Regions from separate parts of the Homo sapiens genome. Here region 1 is reported to be linked to region 2. Evidence: microRNA targets listed by miRTarBase, many of them from high-throughput screens and not tested one by one. Region 2 holds a microRNA gene; the other region holds the end of a gene's coding sequence. Distances are between the middles of the regions.

Region 1 (4,372 bases), 22 Mb from region 2:
TCCAGCTATTGACATCAGTGTGGAGTCAGTAATTCTTTTCTTAGAAGCTGAAGTTATCATTTACAGTAAATTTGGTTTTAGTTCTTTGTCATCCTTATTTACCTGAAGCTCCTTCAGGAAAATTACTCTGAGCTCAGAATTAGCTTAGATAACTTATAAATAGGTGTATAACAGGGATCAGAAAGCCACTCTAGGCCTGACATGCTTGACAGGCTCTGACGCAGGAGGTGGGAGTTCCTGGCCCTTCTAAACACAGATGTGACTATTAGGAGCAAAAGGTACCAAGGGCCCTATTTCCCACTGGCGAGGCTTCTTATTCAGCCCTCACTCTTCTTTCTGTTCACGTTTCCTCTTCAGTTCTCAGTGCCACATCATTTGGCATCAGAGATGAAAAGGATCTAGGGCTGGTTGTTCTCAGAACCAAGAAGCTTTCAAAACCAGCTTGTGGTAGCCCTTCTTGAGAGCAGCTCAGTCTTCTCATTGGTTCACTCTGACCAATCCCAGGATGCATAGGGACCCAGGCAAAGCAGGCCCTAGTAAGTCCCTTTTTTTTTTTTTGAAAGACAGAGGCTGGGCGCCATGGCTCATGCCTGTAATCCCAGCACTTTGGGAGGCCAAGATGGACGGATCACCTAAGGTCAGGAGTTCGAGACCAGCCTGGCCAACATGGCCAAACCTGGTCTCTACTAAAGATACAAAAATTAGCCGGGGTGGCACGGTGCAGGGCGGTATGGGGACGCCATGGCAGAGCTGCAGCAGCTGTGGGTGCAGGAGGTGGTGGACTCCATGGTGAAGAGTCTGGAGAGAGAGAACATCTGGAAGATGCAGGGTCTCATGTTCCGGTGCAGCACCAGCTGTTGTGAGGACAGCCAGGCCTCCATGCAGTAGGTGCACCAGTACATCAAAGCACTGCCATGTGCCTCTGGCTCAAGCCCGGGCTTTGCTCACCAGTGAGTTGGAGAAGTTCCGGCACCACCTGGCCCGGTGCGCCATGCATTGCAACAACAAAGCCAAAGATTCAATGGATACTGGGAGTAAGGAGCTTCAGGTGAAGCAGCAGCTGGACGGTTGTGTGACCAAGTGTGTGGATGACCACACGCACCTCATCCCAACTATGGCCAAGAAGATGAAGGAGGCTCTCTTATCCATTGGGAAATAACAGTCTTTGCCAGTGGCCACTGGGGCTGAGGGCAAGAATATATTTTTTATAAGGAATTGGGAATTTTAGTCTTTTAAGCAAAGTTTATGAAGAAATGAAGGATGGCCACAAGTGTAAGACATATGTCACTTGCCTCTGGACACTGGTTCTTTTATGTTTCAGTCCTAAAAAATGAAATGGAAAAAAGTGGTGCTAAATTGGGTCAGAGATATTACAGGAGAGTTTTAGAGCTTATATATCCTATGGCCAGTGCTTGTCCTGCCAGTAAGGATCTCCCCTGTAACAAGCCAGAGCCCTCCAAGGCACTAAACTCTTCTTATTACACAGGTACCAACAGGCTGGCAGGTTAGAGTTGGTGGAGTTTGAGGAGAGATATTTTCTCTTTGTTGCCAACATCCTGTTTACCAGAAGTGTCACCACACCATTTTCCGTAAGCTGTGAAACAAAATCCATGAGGTCACCCGCTTAGAAGGGCAAAAAAGTTTTCTGGGTCTTTGTTTTCTTGGTTTTGTGTAATTTATACAAGGCGATACAAATTGATTTTAAGATGTGGAATTGGGAGGGAGACTAGTTTGGATAAGAACTTTGAAAGTTTCCTTGAGGATCCCCATTTCTGGTCATCAAGATGTAGATGTAGATTTCTTAAAATTATTACATGCTGCATCTTTCAGCCTGGAGACCATGCAAAAACATGAGAGGTGATGACATACTAATTATGGGAAGCATAATTACTGGCTGATGGGCCGAGGCTGTGTGTAGCAAAATGACAGGACAATCTTGCAGTAACACTTTCCCGGTGAAGAGAAGGGGGTTTTGATTGTGATATATACTAGTATCTAGAAATGAACAGTAAAAGAAGAGCAGTTGGCTACTTGATTATAACAGAGTTATGAAGTACTGGATTTGGAAAAACCTGGTTTTTATAGAACGGATGGAATGAAAGCCTAAACCTAGCACTGCCTACTTAGCCCCCTGAATTAACAAAGCACAATTGAGACAAACCCTGGCAACAGGAAATCCAAGGAAGAAAAAGTAAGCAACTTGGGCTAGGATGAGCTGACTCCCTTATAGCAAAGGAGAGGCAGACCCCAGTACCAAAAACCATTTTTGCCTGGGGCTTTCGCAACTTGCAGTGTTCCTGCCCCGGCATGGCACGTTATTGTTTTGATAGCAACCTCATTGTATTTTCATCAACTTACTACTTGAAATGATAATATAGCCTGTCCATTTGCTGCTTCCAGGCTGTGTTATATTTTCCCGGTGGTTTGCTTTTAAAAATAAATAAAGTTTAATTTTCTCCCCTCCCCCTCCACAAAAAAATTAGCCGGGCATGGTGGTGCCTGCTTGTAATCCCAGCTACTTGGGAGGCTGAAGGAGGAGAATCACTTGAACCTGGGAGGTGGAGGTTGCAGTGAGCCAAGATCATGCTACTGCACTCCAGCCTGGGCCACAGAGCAAGACTCTGTCTCAAAAAAAAAAGAGACAGACTCAGCCGGGCGTGGTGGCTCATGCCTGTAATCCCAGCACTTTGGGAGGCCGAGTGTGCAGACCACTTGAGCTCAGGAGCTCGACACCAACCTGGACAACATAGTGAAACCCCATCTCTACAAAAATATATATAAATTAGCTGGGCGTGGTGGCATGCACCTGTAGTTCTAGCTACTTGGGAGGCTGAGGTGGAAGGACTGCTTGAGTCCAGGAGGTCAAGGCTGCAATGAGCTGAGATTGTGCCACTGCTCTCCAGCCTGGGCAACAGAGTGAGACTCTGCCTCAAAAAAAAAAAAAAAAAAAAAAAAAAGAAGAGTTCTCACTCTGTCACCCAAGCTGGAATGCAATGGTGCAATCATAGCTCACTGTAGCCTTAGACTCCTGGGCTCAAGTGATCCTCCCGCCTCAGCCTCTCGAGTAGATGGGATTATAGGTGTGAGCCACTGCCAAGTCCCTTATCACTGGCACTTGATTTCCTACTGGGCTAGAACCTTAAGCTGTTTGGTGAAAGAAGGGCACAGAAGTCACACAAAGAGAGCAACAGATGCTTGCACAGCAGCTCACACTGCCCTGGGACAGCTCCAGTAAAGAGCAGTCCTGTGTTCAGGTCCTACCTTCTAGAGCAGGATCTAACACAGGACACCAGTTGAATAGCTTATGCTCTAGATAAGTACAGTTCTTGGTATATAGCTAGTGTTCCAGAAATATTAGTTGCATGAATGAATGACAGGTTTAGGCTGTAAGACCAGCATCAGACCATGGAGTGCCTGGATACAACTACATTTCTATGGCCAATTAAAAAAATAATCCTGGGATTGGAGTAGTAGAGCTAAGCCTAGGGACTTGAAAGTTAGTCCAGAGGATCCCAACAGCTGGACACAAACTCAGGAAGACTCAAGAGCCATACAACAGCAATGCAGCAACCAATAATCACCGTTATTATTAAGAGCAGTTTCTAGTACAGAGCGCCTCAGGGCACTTACAATCCCCACAGAGGCCAGCTACCCAACATCAGAGTCTGACCAGCTGGGTGGTCCTGCCCTGCATCCGAGAGGGTGTCGGGACACTCATCCAGATGGCTCTGAGACAGCAGCAGAGCTGACAAGGAGGCCCCACAAGTGAGATTCCTTTGGCTTCAAGGTCGCAAGTCCTGTCCTTGGGCCTCCTGGCCTGCTGAGCCTCCCACCGGCTTTACCCTCAGAGATTGCTGCAGAAGCCTGTGTGCTGGAATGGGCTGCCACATTTCTAGGAAGGAACCCGGGGGCACATGTAGCCTGGTTATTCAATGTTATCATAGACGTGAATCACATCCTCGTGGTTGCTGAGAGCCTGAATGAGATGTGCGGCCTGTTCCAGGTCGGGCTCAGCCAGCTGCACCTTTGAGTTGGGGATGAACTCTAGTGCACAGGACACAGAACACAGGCCCAGGGAGTCCAGCTTCTTCCTCACTTGGTGCAGTGAAGAGGCATCACAAATAAACTAGGGATAAAGGAAAGTCAGGAGGTGAGGAGCCAGGAGGTAATGAGACAAAGCCACACAGGACCTTGCAAAGTCCTGAATGTCAGTACTGGAATGGATCACTGGGTTTGAGCTCTTCACTGGCAGGGACATCGTTTTCAATGTTTTGACTCTTTCTTTCTCATAGTCCTCACTAGAGTCGGTCCTATTCAGTATTCACTTAATAAATGTTTGTACAATATGTGAACTGTCTCACCTATACCCTGG
Region 2 (4,384 bases):
GGGAAGCTCATGTAGATAGCTATGCAGTGTTCTTCAGACCCTACACCACCACCACCCACACATCTGACTCCTCTAGGGGTGGGACATCCTGCTAGCCCATCCAGGCCTGCTATCCCCAAGTAGACAGATTTTGTTTTGTTTTGTTTTGTTTTTTGAGACGGAATCTCACTCTGTCGCCCAGGCTGGAGTGCAGTGGCACGATCTCAGCCCACTGAAACCTCCGCCTCCCGGGTTCAAGTGATTCTTGTGCCTCAGCCTCCCGAGTAGCTGGGATTACAGGCACCCGCCACCACGCCCAGCTAATTTTTGTATTTTTAGTAGAGACGGGGTTTCACCATATTGGCCATGCTGGTCTCGAACTCCTGACCTCAAGTGATCCACCCGCCTTGGACTCCCAAAGTGCTGGGATTACAGGCATGAGCCACTGAGCTGGTCAAGATTCTGAACTACAAGAATACCCATCTATCTCATGCAGAGAATGGAATGAGCACTAGATCTTAACTACCACTAGCCCAGCCTCTATCATTTACAGAAGAAACACGGATCCAGAGAGAGGAAGTGACCTGTCCCAGGTAACAGCCAAGGACCAGAGTGAGGAGTCCAGATCCTCCCTCCTTGCTCAGTTCTCTTTTCACAGTCCCTCAAGGCTGCTTAGGGACACCCTGCCATTCCCTTAGGATGACCCTGCACCCTAGCCACAAGCAGCCCTCATCACTCCTTCCCCTGTGCCCAGGCGCCTACTTGGCATCCTGGCCCTCGAGCAGGCTGCGGTAAGTAGCGATCTCCTGCTCCAGCCGTGTCTTTATGTCAAGCAGCATCTTGTACTCCTGGTTCTGAGCCTCCATCTCGCATCGGAGCTCACTCAGCTGGGCCTCCAGGCCACCAATGAGCCCCTGGATCTGCTGCAGCTGCGTGGCATAGCGGCACTCTGTCTCGGCCAGTGAGTTCTCCAGCCCAGCTTTCTGGGGGAGTGACAGATGCATAGACACATCAGGCTAGAAAGGAAGCCACTGAGGGCAAGCAGGGAGGGGGCACTGAATGGAGTTCAGGGAACCACCTCTTGAGGGGGCTTGAGAACTCCAAGGCTTAAATAGCCAGGAAGAGTGGGAGCTTCTACCACCCGAGAGGCTGGGATGGGGCGCGAGTGGCCGTACCATGCTGAGCTGGGACTGCAGCTCGATCTCCAGCTCCTGCATCGTGCGTCTCAGGTCTGTGATCTCCGTCTTGCTGGTCTGGATCATTTCTGTGTTGGAGGCCACCTCTTTGTTCAGCTCCTCAGTCTGTAGGTCATGCACAACAGAAGTGAGCCCCGGGGCCTCCTCGGAGACTCAGGGACCTGGGGCAGGAAGGGCAGGGCAGGATATAAGGCCCACCTTGCTGAAGAACCAGGCCTCGACATCCCGGCGGTTCTTCTCCGCCATGGCCTCGTACTGCTCCCTCATCTCTGCCAGCACACGGGTCAGGTCCACACCCGGTGCTGCGTCCATCTCCACATTGACCTGGCCGGCCAGCTGGCTGCTGAACTCCTTCATCTCCTGCAGGATGGGAGGGACCCACTTAGAGACGGAGAGCAGAAGAGAGACCTGAGAGTCTGGCGTCACACATGCCAATCCTGGCTCTGCCCGTAACACACCCCAACCGCTGTTCCCCATTGCACATGAAGAGGTTTGGTCACATGGACCCCTCAGCTCTAAGGAGTTCTCTGCTGCTCTAGGTCCTACCAAGGGAGGACCCCGAGACTGTAGGGCCCTGATGTGAGCTCACAAAGCCAATCAGGAAGTCAACCATTCATACGGGCCACCTGGGCTGGCTGTGGGCCTGGGCTACCAGACACTGCCCCTTCCTCTCCATGAGGACACCTGGTTTTGTGGGGTAGGTGTGTTTCTGAACCACTAAGCCCCAGGCCAACTATGAGGAAGTACCAACAGCCCCACTCTGCCTCCCACTGACTTAATCTCGTGAAAATCTGGGAGGGCTTCCTGGAGCCACTGTCTTTCCCTCTGGGCAATTTAAGTGAGTTTTGGGAAGAGGTTCCCCACCTCTCTCGGGTTCAGGGGTGATGGGGGCCAGCTCTCACCTCTTCGTGGTTCTTCTTCAGGTAGGCTAGCTCCTCATTCAGGCCCTCGATCTGCATCTCCAGGTCAGTCCTGGCCAGGGTCAGCTCATCCAGGACTCGGCGCAAGCCGTTGATGTCAGCCTCAACGCCCTGGCGCAGGGCCAGCTCATTCTCATACCTGAGGAGAGGGAGGCCAAAGAAGGAAGTGGGAGGGGTCTTGGCTGCCTGAGTCAGAGCCAGGAGAAGGCCAAGTAAAGTGGGCAATGCAGGAAGAGGAGAGAGACGGGGGAGCGCACTTGAGCCTGAAGTCGTCCGCAGCCAGCCTGGCATTGTCGATCTCCAGGATGACCCGGGAGTTGTCGATGGTGGTGGCCATGATCTGCAGGAGACAGAGTCGGTGTCTAGAGGACTCCTCTCTCTCCCCTGCTGCTCTCTGCTCTGCACCCAAGGCCAGCCCCTCATTGAAAATCACCCCTCACTGACAATCACCCCTCTGACACCACCAACAAAAATCTGTACGGCTTCTGGGGTGGGCAAAGTCCAGCCTCACTTTCAGTGTCCATTTCTTGTTTTGTCCCATCCAGCCTCCTTGAGACACCTGAGGAGCTGCCTTCCTTATCTCCAGGGCACGAAAGACCAAGGAGGCAGTATTGCCTGTGGGAATTGGTTGCCCAGGAGAGTGGGGCAGTGGGGTGCAGCCAGCTCTGACAATAGCTCTCTCAGAGACACTCCACCAGCCCCACTGTGGACAACTCATGGTCACTGCCTCCTGCACACCTTGGACACAGCCATGGATCTACAGAACATTCCAGCCAGTAGCAACCTGGAGGGCAGTTAAGAAGGCATTTTACGAATGAGGAACCCAGTCTTAGGGAGTAAAATGGTGAGTGAGTGGGTGGCAGAATGTGTAATGAGTTCCCAGGTCTCCTAAGACCCAACAGTACTTTTGGCACAAAAGACCTCTTTATAGGAAAAGACAAGAGGTTCTAGCATCTGGAACTCATGAGGCCACACTCCAATCCCATTCTTGCAAAAGAGGTAAAGGAATACTTTATGCAGAAGCCTGCAGGGTGCATGAGGTAGGGAGGGCGAGTTGCTCTTTTTTTTTAATTATTTTTATTTAATTAGATACAGGTTCCACTCTGTCACCTAGGCCGGAGTGCAGTGGCACAGTCATAGCTCACTGCAGCCTCTAAATCCTGGACACGAGCAATCCTATCACCTTGGCCCCCCAAAGCACTGGGATTACAGGTGTGAGCTACTGCCTCTGGCTCTTTATAATTGCCCCCACCTGTGCCCCTGTTGGTCCTAACCAGATTCCCAAGACCCCTCTCTCCCTCCCCCAGCACCACCAAGTTGAGAAGATGTGCACTGGCCTCTGCACCTGGACAGCAGGTGCATTCCAAATTTGCTGAGATTACATACCAGACAGTCATTGCCTGGGCAGGAAAGGATTTCCTTGAGTCAGCAGTAACACTGACATTAGAGCTGTGTACAGGGTACCAGCCACCTGCTCCCCTCTCTTTGACATCCGAGGACTCACCTTGTCCCGGAGCTCTTCAATGGTCTTGAAGTATTGGCTGTAGTCGCATTCTGGGCTGGTTGGGGTCTGCTTCTGGTACCAGTCATGGATCTTCACCTCCAGGTCAGCATTGGCCTCCTCCAGGGCACGTACCTTGTCCAGGTAGGAGGCCAGGCGGTCATTGAGGTTCTGCATGGTAATTTTCTCATTGCCAGAGAGGAGACCACCATCGCCACCACCAAAGCCACCACCAAAACCCCCACCAACGCCCCCTCCAAAGCCTCCACCGAAAACACTACCAGCCCCTCCACCAAAGCCACAGACCCTCATGCCACCCCCATATCCTCCTCCTGACCCTGAAGAGACAAACCTAGCAGAAGAAGCTGAGATACTTCGGCTTCCACCTCCCCCAGAGAGACTCCCCCCACCAAAGCCACCTCCCCCAGCCAGGAGGGAACCCCCTCGGGTTGAGCCACCCCCAAAGGTGGAGGAAGAAGTTTGCAGAAATGTGGTGGTCATGGCCAGGTAGCTGGAGCCCGTGAGTTCTCAGCAAACCCAAGAGATGCTGGCAGGAGGTACCAGGCCAGGCTGCACGCTGGGGCTCCTTATATACCCTTCAGAGGGTGTTGTGGGACCTCGTCTCCTCCCCTAAAGCAAAGCCAACTCCTTCTGCCTTCCTGACAAACACAGCTGCCTGCACACCTTGAGTGGGTCATGTGAAGTTTTTCTCTTCTATTTTTTTTTAATGCAACAAAAGAGATGATTCAGAATTAATAGTGTTTTTCCCCAGGGCACGGTTTTAACAC

The links. Region 2 holds the annotated microRNA hsa-miR-6510-3p (CACCGACUCUGUCUCCUGCAG, at 2,436-2,456, opposite strand). A microRNA usually pairs through its seed, bases 2 to 8, with sites in the 3' UTR of a target mRNA and lowers its output. Matches are read on the target gene's strand: a 7mer-m8 pairs with bases 2 to 8, a 7mer-A1 pairs with bases 2 to 7 and ends in A, and an 8mer does both.
Region 1: the mRNA of TACO1 is a reported target of hsa-miR-6510-3p. The part of its 3' UTR that is shown has no 7-base or 8-base seed match.

The regions. Positions count from the first base shown.
Region 1 is chr17:63,607,556-63,611,927 of GRCh38, reverse strand. It overlaps TACO1 (translational activator of cytochrome c oxidase I), which reads right to left. Exons shown (of 5, transcript NM_016360.4): 5 at 3,563-4,126. The coding sequence ends at 3,926. It also overlaps the pseudogene FAM136DP. Among named protein-coding and RNA genes, the nearest start is that of TACO1, 8.8 kb to the right of the region's middle. RefSeq lists enhancers at 321-821, 822-1,322.
Region 2 is chr17:41,514,731-41,519,114 of GRCh38, forward strand. It overlaps MIR6510 (microRNA 6510), which reads right to left and starts at 2,487; the gene lies at 2,434-2,487. It overlaps KRT15 (keratin 15), which reads right to left and starts at 4,160. Exons shown (of 8, transcript NM_002275.4): 1 at 3,600-4,160; 2 at 2,353-2,435; 3 at 2,078-2,234; 4 at 1,374-1,535; 5 at 1,155-1,280; 6 at 742-962. The coding sequence starts at 4,097. RefSeq lists an enhancer at 1,911-2,795.